Regions from separate parts of the Homo sapiens genome. Here region 1 is linked to region 2. A link means that fine-mapping ties the variant in region 2 to the expression of a gene that starts in the linked region. Tissue or cell type: whole blood. Region 2 holds a variant in brackets; the other region holds the start of a gene. All regions are shown on one strand. Distances are from middle to middle.

Evidence for each region. PIP is the estimated chance that this variant, and not a neighbour inherited with it, causes the effect.
Region 1: it holds the start of RHOXF1, and the variant in region 2 is fine-mapped to the expression of RHOXF1 in whole blood (TOPMed, PIP above 0.99). The same link has a PIP of 0.9 or more in adrenal gland, blood mononuclear cells, ileum, prostate, thyroid and tibial nerve.

What each region holds. Positions count from the first base shown.
Region 1 is chrX:120,111,341-120,119,447 of GRCh38, forward strand. RHOXF1 (Rhox homeobox family member 1) reads right to left here and starts at 4,573. Exons shown (of 3, transcript NM_139282.3): 1 at 4,125-4,573; 2 at 1,529-1,574. The coding sequence starts at 4,522. The region is part of intron 1 of RHOXF1-AS1 (RHOXF1 antisense RNA 1); the gene reads left to right. LINC01402 (long intergenic non-protein coding RNA 1402) reads right to left here. Exons shown (of 3, transcript NR_126557.1): 2 at 6,522-6,571; 3 at 6,302-6,369.
Region 2 is chrX:120,083,921-120,092,027 of GRCh38, forward strand. All of the region lies in intron 1 of RHOXF1-AS1 (RHOXF1 antisense RNA 1), which reads left to right. Among named protein-coding and RNA genes, the nearest start is that of RHOXF2B, 10 kb to the left of the region's middle. The variant A/G (reference allele first, on the strand shown) is at 4,726.

The DNA of each region.
Region 1 (8,107 bases), 27 kb after region 2:
GCACTCAGTAACCCGCTTTGTTAGTTTGCTTTTTTGGACAACCCACTACCAGATCGGCAGTGCATTTCCCTCACTACACTCACACATGCACTCTGCATAAAAGCTAATAATAAGGTCATCCTGATTTTTGTTTTTTCTTTTTTGGGAAAACATCACTTTGATACTATGTATGGTTTTCTTTGGTCTTAAGTGGTCATCACTTGAATCCTATGACCTACTAATTAGTTAACACTGCTTAAAGGAATGAAAAGTATTTGAAATTAACATGGGTGTGAATCTACCCTAAAATGAGGGCCACCTCTCCAAACAAATTCCAGAAAACCCACCTCTTCAAAAAAGTACCACCAAAAAGAAATATAAATCCTTAGATGGATAGAAATTCCTCAAGAGAACAGTCACTTAAACATTTAGTAGTTTCATAATGTTGAATTTGTATAGTACATGCATAGTATGTGCAAAGCCTATTTTGACCATATTTCTCTCTAACCTTTTCACCCTTCTTGGTCAACTGAAATGAATTCAATATTACTCATTTTGTTTGCTTCATTCTTTAGACAATTTTCCAAAGCATACAAACCTTACAAACCTTCCTCAATTTCAAAATAATGTGACTATTTTAGCAATATTTTCAGGTTGACACATCAAAGTATTTTAGAAAATTAAAACTTAGGGCTGCCACTCTCTATACTGCTTTACCAATAACTTAAAAACAAACAAAGAAGGACCAGGGGCTTGGACATATAAGCTATCTTCCCATCAGTCTCAGCTTAACTAAGTATACATTATTTAGTCATGTAATGTGTTCTGTGGGTGAATTACTCCCTCATCCCAATATTTATAAATTCACTCATTTAGCTAAGTGTTTATGCCTGGCCTTAAATAATTTAGTACACTTGAACCCTCTTATAACCCTGCTCCTCCCTGCATTAACTTGAATACTTCTAAGGTAAGACTGAACCCCACCATGACTCTACACAGAAATTGTTCCTAAAAGATACCAGCGTTAGAAGGAGTTGAATTTTATTTATTGGATACATACATATATGTATATATGTATGATATATATACATATATGTATTATATATAATACACATATATTATATATAATACACATATGTATAATATATAATACACATATATGTGTTATATATAATACACATATATGTATTATATATAATACACATATGTATTATATATAATACATATATGTATAATATATGTGTTTCATATGTATGTATTTGTTTAATTTTGTATACAGATTAGGAGAAGCAGTTTTTGTTTTGTTTTTCCTTTAGGAAATCATATTCCCTAATTGGAATGGGAAAGAGGAAAGAACCATAAGCTGGAGCTTACTTCCTTTTCTACCGACAAGGAACCCAAACTTCAAAACTTATTTGTCAACATAAAAAAGACAATAATAAAAACAACAACTTTAGAACGTTCAGGACAAAGCCTTCAAAGCCTTCAATGCCCTGAAGCAGGTTTTAGAATGGCTGTCCTCTCAAATTGCTTTTTCAAGTGTACTGACCCGCACTTTGTCTTCAGTCACACCTAAGTTTTCGGCAAGTTCCCTTCTGTGGAGAGAAGATCACACATGGTTAGTATTCAAAGTTGTGGATGAAATGAAATATATAGTATGTACTATTTACTTCATGCTTGTTTTACAATTTATAATCTCCCCTCACACCTCCCCCAAGTATATACTTTTCTCTAATTCCCAGCTCCATGGTTGCTTTAGAAATGGTTTACCCTCATCACGAAATTTAAGGTGACGTTAACAACTCAGTAATCAAGAGAAATACCTTTTTTTTTTTAAATTGAGACAAGGTCTCACTCTGTCTCCTAGGCTGGAGTGCAGTGGTGTGATTTCAGCTCACTGCAACCTCCGCCTCCGGGGTTCAGACGATTCTCGTGCCTCAGCCTCCCGAGTAGCTGCGATTACAGGCACATACCACCATGCCCAGTTGATTTTTGTATTTTTAGTAGAGATGGGGTTTTGCCATGTTGGCCAGGCTGGTCTCGAACTCCTGCCCGTCTCAGCCTCCCAAAGTGCTGGGATTTGGGGCATGAACCACCGCACCCGGCCAAGATGAATAATTTAATGCATTATTATTATTTTTATTATTATTATTTGAGACAGGGTCTCACTGTCGTCTATGTTGGAGTGCAGTGGCAGGATCACTGCTCACTGCAGCCTGCATGTCCTGGGCTCGAACGATCCTCCTGCCTCAGCCTTCCAAGTGGCTGGGAGTACAGGCACACACCACCACACCCACATGGCTAATTTTTTAAGTTTTATTTAGAGACGGGGTTTTGCCATGTTGCCCAGGCTGTTCTTGAACTCCTGGACTCAAGCAACCTTCCCACCTTGGCCTCCCAAAAGCGCTGGAATTACAGGCCTGAGCCACCGTGCCTGGCCCTAATGCACTATTTTAATAAATAACAATTAATGCAAAAATCTGTGATGAGGACCAGGCACTGTGGCTCAGGCCTGTAATCCCAGCAGTTTGGGAGGCCGAGGCAGGCAAATTGCTTGAGCCCAGGAGTTTGAGACTAGCCTGGGCAACACGGCGAAACCTTATCTCTACACACAAAAAAAATACAAAAATTAGCCAGGTGTGGTGGCCTGTGCCTGCAGTCCCAGCTACTCAGGGGGCTGACACGGGAGGATGGCTTGAACCCAGGAAGCAAATGTTGCAGAGAGCTGAAATCGCACTGCTGCACTCCAACCTGGGCCACAGAGAGAGACTCTGTCTCAAGACAAAACAAAAAAACCAGAAAAACAAAAAACCAACCAAACAAACAAAAAAAAACTATGATGAACAAATTATCAAAATTTTAAATAAAGGAAGGATCTAGCACTGTAGTTGCATGACAGTACCTCATTCTCCTTACCCCAATTTCAATAAAATTTTATTTATAAAAACAGACCACAGCTGGGTGTGGTGGCTCACTCCTATAATCCCAGCAACTCAGGAGGCTGAGATGGGAGGATTGCTTGGGTGACAGATCCCCCACTCAACAAAAACAACAACAACAACAAAAACAGGCCATCATCACAGGTAATAAAAGAAAAAATACATAACTTGGACTATATCAAAATTTAAAACTTCTGTATATCAAAAGATGCAATGAACAGAGTAAAAAGACAACTCATAGAATGGAAGGAAATATTTGCAAATCACATCTGATAAGGGGTTAATATCCAGAGTGTATAAAGAACTCCTACAACCCAATAACCAAAAAAAAAGAAAGAAAGAAAGAAAAAGCCACTCAGATTTTAAAATGGGTAAAGGACTTAAAGAGATATTTCTCCAAAGAAGATATACAAGTGGCCACTAAGCACATGAAAGGATGCACAACATCACTAATCATTAGGGAAAAGCAAATCGAAACTACAATGAAGTATCACCTCACACCCATTAGGATGGCTATGTAAAAAACCCCAGAAAATAACAAGTGTTGGTGAGGATGTGGAGAAACTGGAACCCCCATGTACTGTTGGTGTGCACCTGTATCTATAAAATGGAATATTATTTAGCCTTAAAAAGGAAGGAAATTCTAATATATGCTGCGATATGGATGAACCTTGAAGACCTTATGCTAAGTGAAATAAGTCAGTGACAAAAATGCAAATACTGTATGATTCTACTTACATGAGATACCTAGAGTAGTCAAAATCATAGAGACATAAAATAGTAGAATGGTGGTTGCCAAGGGCTGGGGAAAGGGGGAAAAGGGGAGTTGCTTAACTGGTATAGAGACTTAGCTTGGCAAGATGAGAAGAATTCTAGAGATCTATTGCACAACAATGTGAACATACTTAACACAACTGAACTCTATACTTAAAAAGTGGTTTGGACGGTAAATTTCATATTTCCGTGTATTTTACCACATCTTTATAAAAGGGAGGCACGGACTAGTTTCCAGGTTTCATTCACATAAACATTGCAATAAAACATTTACCTTGATGCCCAGGAGGTAAATATCCCCCTCCACACCAGCACAAAGGCAGGCAAGGACCCCCAGTGGCTTTTTCCTCATGATTGGGTGGGGCAAGGGAGAGAAAAAGATGCCTCGAAACGAACTTGGAGATCTCGTGGCTCCTGGAGCAGGCCACTTACCTTGTGGGCACATCAGGGTATTGAGTGTGTCGGAAAACACTTTCCAGCTCCTCCACCTGCAACAGCGTGAACTTCGTGCGCCGAGTTCGTGGCTGCATGTTCTCGGGCTGCGGACCCTCCATGGCCGCCTGGGCCGGCTCCTCCGGCGGGGGCTGCGGCTGCTGCCGAGGCTCCTGGTTTCCACCGCCGCCCTCGGGGATCATGCCGCCATCGCGGTTCATGCCGTTCTCGTGGTTCACACCGCCCTCAGGGTTCATATTACCCATGAGGCCTGGAGCTCCTTGGCCAACATGGCCTTCTGCGCTTGATGCTGCCCCCAGCTGAGGTGTGGGGCTTATTTTTACCTGGTATACACTCAGGCAGTAGAACACGGTGTCGTGGACGAGCGAACGCGCCATGGCTGGAGCGCTGCGCCCCTGCACAAACTCCGTGGCGTCTGCAGCTGGAGTGGGGGTTAGAGGGTGGAGCTAGTTCCTGTTCTCATGCTTGGTATTGGTTACAGTTGCAATGAGTGGGACTTGCTTATGCGCACAAGCAAGAGAGGGAATGGAGAGGAGTGGGGGGATGGGAAGTTGGGGGGTGCGGGTGGGGAGTGGGGGTGTTGCAGGTGGGAGTGGGGGGTTGTGAGTGTGGGGTGGGGTGCAGGTGGGGATGGGGGTGTGGGTGGAGGGTGGGGGGTGCACAGTGAGGGTGGGGGTTGCGGGTGAGGGTAGGGGTTGTGGGTTGGGGTGGGGGTTGCCGGTGGGGGTACATGGTGGGGGTGGGGGTAGCGGGTGGAGATGGGAGGTGTGGGTGGAGGGTGCGTGGTGGGGGTAGGGGTTGTGGGTGGGGGTGAGGGGTGTGGTATGGGTCGTGGGTGGGGGTGGCAGTTGAGGGTGGAGTGGGGTGGCCAAAACACAGGGGCAGTGTGGAGAAGAAAAGGGCCAATAGGAGGCATATATGTATGCAACATGGGGCCCCAGCTTGCAGCTTTGCTGACTACACCCTACTCGGGCCTAGTTATTACCCTGAGGAAAGCTGATTTGGGGGCTCAGAGGGGAGGTGAGATCTCACGGTGACCATAGGACGCCTTGAGTAAAAGTTTGGAGAATATCTCATGGCCTGACCCTCCATATTTGGCAGCATGCACAGGGCGCGGGCTATTAATTAAGCAGAAATGATTGACTGGGGGCTGCTTGTTCAGAGTTCCAGCAAAGGCACTGAAAGCAGAGCTGCCATGCTCTCTTCAGTGCTGGGATCGGGATCTTGGAGATGGGCATGCAGAGCATTCTGGGTGGTAAGATGTGCTCTGCAAGAAATCTAACGCACCCTTTGAGAAAGTCAACACAGAATAAACACGAGGCTGAATCTGTTAGCCTGAGACTGAATATCTTTGGCTATGCAAGAGAAACCTGTACTCATGGCAAAATGGAGTGCTATAAGGACAAGCAAAAAATAAATAAATAAATAAAATCGGGGATGGTATAGGAAGAGCACCAGTAAGGGCATACCTGCCAAAAATCTCCAATCTTGGGATGGAGATTTGGGATTTAAGGATATGCAGCTTACTGGATGTGGGGCCACTTCTGCTCCACAGAGCCTTGTAACTACACAGCCTTCCTACCACTGACCCCAATAAGCCCAATTACGAAGAAAAACCCTGAAGAGCCTGGTGCAGTGGCTCCTGCACTAGTCCCAGCTACTCAGGAGGCTGAGATGGGAGGATCACTTGAACCCAGGAGTTTGAGGCTGTGGTGAGCTAGAATCACATGGCAGCACTCCAGCCTGGGCAACAGACAGAGGCCCCTTTTCTTTAAAATAAATAATAAAATAAGAAATAAAATGAAAATGAAAGAAAGGAAAGCGCTAAGAGAGTCTGTCATGAGGAAGGGCATGGAGATGTCTTTTGAGGGTGGACAACTCATGAATCCTTAATTTTTCTAGAGATTGTGTGTGTGCTCTTAAGTGATGTTATATACTTTATTTTGTTTTTTAAAAATATTTTTAAAAATTTTATTTTTAAATGTTCTTTTAAAAACTTTCTGTATCTATTTATATCTATTGGTTATTTGAGGTTTTTTTGGCAGCATATATAAATATGCAGACCCTTTGAGTCTGTAGCCTACCAAGAGAGATAGCTCTCGTCTTCATGGTGATTCTGAGCATGGAAAGGCCCTTGCACTTGGCAGCATGACAAGGACTAAGCCACTCGCTCCATTAATTGACTGCCATCCACTGGGCTAAGTGAGATCCTTGCGTTCTATCCCTAGTGAGAGAAGAGAGAGGAAGAAGAAGAAAAATAGAAAGATAATAAGAAAATAGAAAAAGAAATGAATAAATGTACATTGTGGGGAGCAGGAAAGGACTACCAGTAATGGGAGGCATCAGCTAGGAGCACAGATCCGAAGCATGACTCACTGTGTGTCCTAGGACACTGGATGAATCTATCTGGTTCTCAGCTTCCTCACCTATAAAATGGAGATAACAACAGTGTCTCGATCATAGGGTTTTCATGAGAGTTCAATGAGGCAAGGCATACATGTAACTGAACACAGCTCCGACTGCTCACCAGTTGCAAAGTCCAGTGAACAAGAACGACGTCTGGTAGAAAGAAAGTGGCTTTATTCCAGAGCTAGTTGAGGGGAAGTAGTACAGGCTGCCTTGAGGAAGCCACTAAAGCCTTTGGGGCAGAAGGCAGGAGCTTTGAAAGTGGGGCTTGGCGTGAATGGCATGCAGGGGAGAGGGCGATGAAGTGCAGAGTCTATGTGACTTGCTTCGGATGTCTTATCTATCAGGTGGTCTGGCTGGCACCGTCACGGGCAGAGCTAGGTTGTAAGTTGAGGCAATCTCAATTTGCCTCCTGGTAGGAGAGAGTTCTGGAGGTTCCTGGTTTGCTTTAAGGTTCGGTCTCTGTAACTTCTAAGTAAACATGTAGTTAGATAAGCTTGCTGTGTAGGGAGTGTCTGGTGGAGAGAAGGTAAAGTTTATAATTGCATTCCCAAAGAGCTAAGTAGGAGGTGTGAGGAAAGGAAAAAGGAAAAAATAATTCATTTGATTCTTTAAAAAAGAGGTACTTGGTTATATATAGACTGTTTTATTCTTTTTCTTCAACTCCAAATAGTCAATTTATCAGCAAATCCTGTTGACTCCGCCTCAGAAACACATTCCCAAACCTTTAATTTTTTTTCTCTGACATGCTTAAGATAATCTCTATCATCTTAAACCTGGGATATTGCATTAGTGTCCTGTCTCCCTGCTTTCACCTTTTTTCTCCTATAAACATTCTCCACCCAGCAGCCAGAGTGATCTGATGATGAAAATGTGAATTACACCATGGTGCCCCTGCTTATCACCTTCATACTGCTTGTTCTTGGGTTGGGTCCAGAGTAGGTACTTAATACATGGTAATGCTTATTACATTATTATTTGCTCTGGTATCTAGGAATAAGATATATTAGGCCAAGGAAGAAAATCTGTCTGCTGAGTGAAAGACACACTCTCCTGGCACATTTCCTGGCCCAGGGCTCATACATGCAGCAACCAACATAGGCTTATTGATGGAAGCACATATAGGTACATAGAAACATGGTACGTGTATTGTTTTCACAAGAAGATGCTCTATCTTTATTACATGCTGCCAGAGGAGAACAATCACTCTCTCTCCCTTGTGAATAAAAAAATATGAAAGTGAGTCAAGTAGGAAATGTGAGGCTGCATGGTCATTTGTGAAATTGTATAATTAAGCACCTCAATTAATCCTCAAAACACCTCTATGAATTAGGTATGATTGTTATCTCCATTTAAAAAATTATTAAACCAAGGCAAAATGAGAATAAACTGCTCACCAGATTAGCCAGCTAGCAAGTAGTGAGTGAAGCCATGATTCAGATACCTAGTCTGGTTCTAGGGTCACTGCTCACATAAATCTGTTACATCAGGCCGTGATTTGTGGCTATTTTTGCTTAGGATGAGGGTTCCATTAGGTACTTAAGGTTTTCAAGAGT
Region 2 (8,107 bases):
GCCTCAACCCACCCTGAGAAGGTGCAAAGAAACACTAGCATATACCGGTAACCTCCTGCTCAAGGCAACTCGGTAAAGTCTACAAGCAGGTTCTCACAAGGCACAGCTCCCATTTCCTGAATTCCTGGGGGTCGAATAGGTCCTTGTTTTGGCTTATTCCAGACACAGGATAGACATTATTCGCAAACAGCATGGGTGATGGCAGAGAGCCGTGGCACATAGAAGTGTTGACCTATCAAAGTCTCTAGTTTCCAGTGTGTGTTCTTTGATGGATCTGCTTCACAAACCTTGAGGCTATTGTCTCTGGGACGTCTAGTCTCCCATCAGAGAACAGCCACCATCCACCTTTAATATATTTCCCTGTTTCCAGAACAAAACAAGCTTTTTCACTCGAAGAGTAAGGGGGTACCTCCAGCAAAGGGGGCTCTATAAGGAGAGGCATTGCTAGAGTTCTTTCTTCAGGTGAAGCCTTGCTCATTGCTGCCTGCCGAGCCTCTTGGTCTGCCTTTCTGTTGCCCTGCACCTCATAGCTTTTCCTGATTTGGTGTCCTTTGCAATGAATGACAGCCACCTTCTCCGGAGCCCATACGGCTTCCAATAATTGCAAAATTTCCTCCTTATTTTTTATTTCTTTTCCTTCAGTAGTCAAAAGTCCTCTCTCTTTGTGTATTCCCCCATGGGCACGCAGGGTTGCAAAAGCATATTTTGAGTCAGTACATATGTTTACTTTCTTCCCCTTGGCCAATAACAGTGCTCTGGTTAATGCTATTAATTCAGCCTTCTTAGCGGAAGTCCCAGAAGGTAAGGCTTGAGCCTCAACCACTGAGTGTTGGGTCACTACTGCATATCCTGCATATCTCACCCCATCTGTTATGAAACTGCTACCATCAGTGAAGTATATAACATCTGGGCTCTCCAAGGGGGAATCTCTGAGGTCTTCCTGGCTCGAGAACACTTTGTCCACCATATTTATGCAACAGTGGGGAAGGTCCTGCCAGGAGTGAGGCAACCCAGCATCCTTCCAATCGGGTTCCTCCACAGGCAGCAGGGTAGCTGGGTTCAAGGTATTTACATTCTCTAGTGTTATCTGGGGATTTTCACATAGAAGCCCTTGATACTTTAGCATTCTAGAGTTGGACAGCCAACCATATCCTCTTTGCTCCATTAAGGTGACTACGGCGTGTGGCACTGAACTATTAACTTCTGACCTAGGGCTAGCTTGTTGGCATCTTCTATAAGGATTGCGGTAGCTGCCAATGCCCTGAGGCAGTGGGGCCAACCTAAAGCCACCAAGTCCAGTCTTTTGGATAAGTATGCTACCGGCCGATGCCAAGAGCCCAAGAACTGAGTTAAGACTCCAACTGCCATTCCTTGACATTCATCCACATACAAAAAAAGGGCTTTTTTACATTTGGCAACCCTAGTGCCGGGGCCTGGATGAGAGCTTCCTTTATATCCTTGAAGGCCTTTTCCTGTTTCTTTTGCCATAGGAGGGGCTCTCTTTCCTTTCCTTTTATAGCCTCATACAAGGGCCTTGCTGTAAGGGAGAAGTTTGGAATACAGATTCGGCAGAATCCTGCCACGCCTAGAAATTCCCTGGCCTTGTAACTGGGGTGGGCAGTGCACATACAGCCTCCTTGCGTGCACTTAAGCCTGCGCTGGCCTTGGGATACCATGAATCCTAGATATCCAACCTCCTGAAAACAGACTTTTGCCTTGTCCTTGGACACTTTATAACCAGCTTCACACAGCACGTGAAGAAGCCTCTCTGTTCCTTGGAGTCATTCCTCCCTCGTGGGGGCGGCAAATAGGAAATCATCAATGTGTTGTAATAGCACATAATTGTCACTAGGTGGCGCAAAAGCCTCAAGATCTGTAGCCAAGGCCTCCTCAAAAATGGTAGCATTCTTAAACCCTTACGGCAGCCTTGTCCAGGTATATTGCGATTGCCCCCTCTGACTTTGGGGAGCAAGCTTCAAACAAAAGAAGGCATCCTTTAAGTCCAGACATGTGAACCAAGTGGCATCAGCAGGAATCTGTCCCAACATTGTGTATGGGTTGGGTACTGTTGCATGGATAGCGACAGTGGCCTTGTTTACCACCCGGAGATCCTGCACTGGCCTGTATTCCCCATTTGATTTGTGCATGGGTAACAGAGGAGTATTCCATGAGGACTTGCATTTTACTATAATCCCATGTGTATAAAGCCGATTCAGATGCTTTTGTTATTCCATCAATTGCCTCCCTGGGTACTGGGTATTGACGGACTCATACCGGGGCAGCATGAGGGTTAAGCTCTGCTACCACTGGGGGTCTGTTTGCAGCAAGTCCAGGGTATTATCCTCGGCCCATACACCTGGTACCTTGAAAAGCATCCCCCATATATTGTGTAGGTCGGTTCTGGTGACCTTCTGGCACACGGTTCACACAGCCACCATTCCTCAGCCCTTGGGACAGTTGGAGTTCATACCATTGCCTTGGACTTTCCAAACTCCAGTGTCATATTCCCTTTAGGCGTAAAGAAAATTTCTGCCTGCAGTTTCTGGAGTAAGTCTCTCCCCAGCAAGGGCACTGGACAATTTGGCATATACGGAAACTCATGCTGCACTTCTTGTCCCCCAATAACACATCTCCTGGATTTGCAAAAAGGTCTCTTTTTTTTGGCCCCAGTAGCCCCTACAATAGTAGCACAGTTCTTTGTGGGGAGGCTAATTGGGTGAGTTACCACAGAGAAATCAGTACCAGTATCGACCAAAAAAATCCATTAATTGACCCCCTATTTCCATAGAGACCATAGGCTCCCCGGGGCCTAAAAAGATGGAGCCTGGTCTGTCTCAGTCCTCAAAATTCTTGGCCCCTGCTAAGCCAATCAGATCAGGATCTGCCCTTGATGCACCATGACTAGCAACCGAATAACGCACTTGGGTGTTAGACCATTGACCATCATTTCCATCCTTTTCCTTTTTGGGTCACTCATCTTTCCAGTGGCCCATTTTCCTGCACTTTGCACATTGGTTCCTGTCCAACCAAGATTGGCTTTCCTCTCCTGGTCTTGTCTGCCCCCTTCCTCGACCTCTGCCTTGGCCACGCCCTCTAGCAAATTCAGGGTTACTTTCTGCTAGTGCAGCAGCTATAAATTGAGCCATCTCTGTTCCTATATCTGGTTTTTCTTTCTTCCTTTGGTTGGGCTGCCTGAGCCACTAATGCCTTATAATATCTCTTTAGACAGGGCTGTAGACACTTGGGGTGAGTTTGTGCTACACTGAGCCAAGAGTCTATATAGGGAAACTGGTCTGGGTATCCTGGTTGTCTTCCAACTCCGGTGACCACGTTAAACACACGGCCAATTAATTTTCTGTCTATTGTACCTTCAGAGGGCCACCCCACATTGAAAGCAGGCCAATCTATTTCACAGTATGTCCTTAACTTTTGAGCATCCAGTTTCATCCCATAATCACCTCTAAATCCTTTTTTAAAATTCTTTATCACGCACTCCAAAGGAGTTGGCTTCGACACTTTTCCTCCCATTTCCTCCCTTGCAGTGCACTTTCCCTCTCACTTTCACTCTCAGATCCACCAGACCAGGTCCTTTTATGGGAGTTTCAGACACTGCTTAGCCAGGAATGTGCCTTCCCCTGTCACAGCCTGCTGTGGCTGTGAAACTGGTCCCATTGGCCGTATGCGGCATCCTAGGTCTGATTTCTTCCACGCTCACCTTGGAGTACACAGCCTGCCCTAAGGGATCTGTGCCTCCTCACGTTACTCCCCGCATTGGCCTCTCCCAAGACCATCTCTTTCATACACTTTCACACACCTCCCCTGCCCAGGACTCCTCATCAGACGAAACGAGCCTCTCTCATGTCCTGGGTGGGTTCACACACACCCACACACTCCCAGTTCCTGTCTCCAGATCCAGTAAACCACTTTCACTTTGTTAATGGGGACACGAGGTTCATCCAAATTAGCAAGCCTCTCCTGCCACCCCCAGCTGCTCTGGGTTGGATTAGTGGTCATTCCCTGGGAGGTGATCATCCTTATGGGACAGGCTTCCCTGCCTTAGGCACTTGCTCCTTACTACAGTTCCTGAAGTGCTGGCATCGTCCTGCAGCCCTGTTCCTGGTTCTGTTGCATTGCCGGGCAGTCTGCTGGGATGTGGGGAGAGCCAGTCTCTGTCTGGGTGAAGCTCCCCTGTGGCGTGCCTTGGATGCTGGGTCTCCCCAGCCCTGGGGCTCTAGTCCCCCAGGCAAATGAGACAGTAAATCTGTTGTCTCCAATCCCAGGCGAGTTCCCAGAAATGTTACGAGATTTTTAAGGAATCAGAGAGACCAATGGGGCTCAGGAGGATATTTATTAATTATTTAGGTGCACTGGTCCAGTCGGATTAACATCCAAAGGACTGAGCCCTGAACAGAGTTAAGTTACCTTTTAAGCATTTCGTGGGTCGGGGGAGATCTGTGCAGAGGAAAGTATACTACAGAAGTGAGAAACAAAGGCAATTGAGACATGCATTATATCATTTTTTACTTTTCAAGGAAAAACATGTTTTGCAACTTGAGTTTTTCTGTCTAGTGACCTTGCAGCTGCACAGCTAAGGAGACAGGGTCTTCACAATGCCTGGGAAAGTGGGAGAGATAAGGCTCACTAGCCACAGAAAAACAGGCAGTTAATTTTAAAGGACTTCAGCTCTTTCTCTTTCTTAGGGGGAATTGGGTTTTCTTACATACA[A/G]CTGAGTTTCTGCTTGCACACTCTTTAATTTCTTTTAATTCCTGTTCCATACATACACTGGAATATTCTTTTGGAATGTGTTCTTCCTTTTCTTTCTAAGGGATACAGGCACAGAAATTTGTGGCCTATAGCTGACTGTCCTGTTGAGAATTACTGAACTGAACTGAGCTGGTTGAGAACTTTGTTATAACTTTCACATTTTATTGTACTTTTGACAAAGGGCAAAAGAAAAGTTAAGTTCTGTGTAGAATAAACCCAAAGCTATGTTTGCATAATCTTATCAGTTGTTTTGTATGTTGGCAGATACTATCTTTACTTTCAGAAAACACAGAGAGATCAATTATTATACTTGATCTACAGAGTGCTCAGATAATATAATAAAGTAAGTATGTGATTTCTACTATGATCCCAAAGAATTATATTCACAAAGGCAGTAGATAAAAGGTAGGGAAAACAATGAGAACATCCAGTATTACTTATACAAGAAAACAATGTGATTTCCCATGTGTTTAAGAGTTTCATTGGGCCGGGCGCGGTGGCTCACGCCTGTGGTCCTAGCACTTTGGGAGGCCGAGGGGGCGGATCACGAGGTCAGGAGATTGAGACCATCCTGGCTAACACGGTGAAACCCCGTCTCTACTAATGGTACAAAAAATTAGCCGGGCGTGGTGGCAGGTGCCTGTAGTCCCAGCTACTCAGGAGGCTGAGGCAGGAGAATGGCGTGAACCTGGGAGGTGGAGTTTACAGTGAGCCGAGATCACGCCACTGCACTCCAGGCTGGGCGACAGAGTGAGACTCCATCACACACACACACAAAAAAGAGTTTCATTGATACATTATGTGCATCTTCTTTTGTGCCACTTACCACATGGTTACATGGAGGAGTGTTTTGTTTAGCATATACATTTTCCTTCTCATGCTAATGTATTTTGTTTTTAGAGGCTAAAAAGCAGTCAAGGTCCAGGGAGCCCACTCTTTTCTTTTACCTTACAGACCTTGGTGTTTGCGGTGGGTCTATAGGGTAATCATAGAGTTTTCAGGCTAAGCCTGTAAGAGTGGTCCACCGTAGATATGACCTTGGACCTGACTGGAAAAGAGAAAAACATCAACATCACCATCAGATATTCAGCCATTAGAGGAACAGCTTTGCCACAGTATTTTAGTTCTGCACAAGGCACTATTCAATGAGGCAGTCCACTGTGTGGCAAACACACCTGTTCAAGTGAGGCTGGATTGTTCTGAGAGGTCTTAAGATTTCATGACTCTCAAGGATCTGCCCACCTGGGACTGACCAGCACAGTACTCAGGGTCTATGGACTTCAATGTTGGAGGATGGACCTCAGCTTGGTAAAATCCTGGGCTATAACCACCTCCTCTTGTAACCAAAAAGCAGGTTAATTGGACTTAGAGTCCAATTAACAAGAGCAAGGCCTTGTACAAGAAAAGTGAATTTATTTCCGAAGCTAGCTAGGGGAAGGGGCATAAAGTGTCTTGTTTTAAATGTGATGCTTCACCTTTGTAGCAAAAGTGAAATCTTTTCTAAGTTGACCAGAGAAGTGAGCAAGGGCAGGGGGTCTCCCTGCTACCCTGGTTTCTTATCTACCAGACAGTTGAGTTGGTGCCTTTCTGGGCAGAAATAAGTTGTAAAAGTGGCTAAATGGAAAGCATGCCCTCCTGAGGTGACCCTCTGGAGGTGGGATTTCTGTGGGGACATGCTTTGATCTGCACTTCAACTATCAACTCTAGAGGAGAGCTCCATCTTGGGGCACACGGATGAACTTGCGCTGTAGGGAAAGTCTGGTGACTGGGAGGAGAGAGGTTATTTTGCATTTCAAAAAGGGCTAAATAGGAAGCAGGGGGAAAGGAGAAAGGAGAAAAGAACAGAAAAAAATAATTAAACTACCACTTAGAAAAATGGGGGTACTTGGTTACACTCTTATTTCTGAGGTCAGTGTGGTGCCCTTTATCTTGAAAGGATTTAACTTCGGCTATAGTTGCTTAGAACTTACTAAATCTAACTTTGAATCATATTTTAAGTTAGAAAGTATTTTGCTGTCCCCTGCTTGGCCTTTCTAGTTATCTTTTCACATGAACATGCTTTATCTTTCCAACTAGGTTGTGAGGATGGAAACATTAGTTCATTCAGCTTTTCTTCCCCATAGTGCCAGACACCTAGGTACTTTAAAGGTGTTGACAAGCTATCTACTGGCTGAGTGGCTTATTTGAGAAAAATACAATGTCAGAATTTCACCTGCACTTCATTGCTGGGAGCCATCAGCTTGCTAGACGTAGACATGAAGAGGAGAAAGCATGAAGAGAATGGGCAAGGGGGAGGAGGGAATGAGGGAAGAAGATAACTAAGGGATGGTGTAATAGGGAGGGCAGAGAAGAGATGGGAGAAATTGAGTTGTATGACTTCAGAGCAAGTGTCCTTAAACATAGGGCATATTAGGAAAGACTATGCCCCCTTAAAGTTTGGATGGAACCTAAAATCTGTACACTTGTCAGCTAAATTGGTCTCCTTTGATAATATTGGCAACATGTGTCACGAAGATTAGACACAGAAATTGGAGAGATTGTAAGAAGTGTGCAGAAAATATTTCCATGGAAGATCCAGCCTAGTTGGCAGCCTCAGGTAGGATCATAATTGAAATGCTAGAATGTTACAGTAGGCATTGTTCCAGGGCTAAAACTTGTTATTCATAACTTCAACTCTAATTTTATTCACTTGAATTTTCAGAGTGCAGCTGTAAGGGGCCACAAAAGGTTCCCTGGCTTAGTTGCTATTCTGTAATTACATGTAAAGCCCTGATCAACTTCCCGAAAGCCTGTGCAAGGCTTTTCTTTCTTTCTTTTTTGTTTTGTTTTGTTTTTTTTTTTTGAGACACAGTCTCGCTCAGTCGCCCAGGCTGGAGTGCAGTGGCTTGATCTCCGCTCACTGCAAGCTCCGCCTCCTGGGTTCACGCCATTCTCCTGCCTCAGCCTCCCAAGTAGCTGGAACTACAGGCGCCTGCCACCAGGCCCAGCTAATTTTTTTTGCATTTTTCTTTTTTAGTAGAGACTGGGTTTCACCGTGTTAGCCAGGATGGTCGCGATCTCCTGACCTCGTGATCCGCCCACCTCGGCCTCCCAAAGTACTGGGATTACAGGCGTGAGCCACCGCGCCCGGCCTGTGCAAGGCTTTTCTTGAGAGCATGTGCTGAGACAATTTTTTATTTCAAATCACAGAATTAAGAATTATGTCATTGGTTAGAAGGGTAGAGCATAACTTACATTAGTATATTTGCAATGACGTATTTGCTTTCCTGAGGTAGTGTGAGGAATAAGAAGGCAATAGATATTCATATTTCTGAGTGTACTTTTATAAAGTGAAACACTTTTG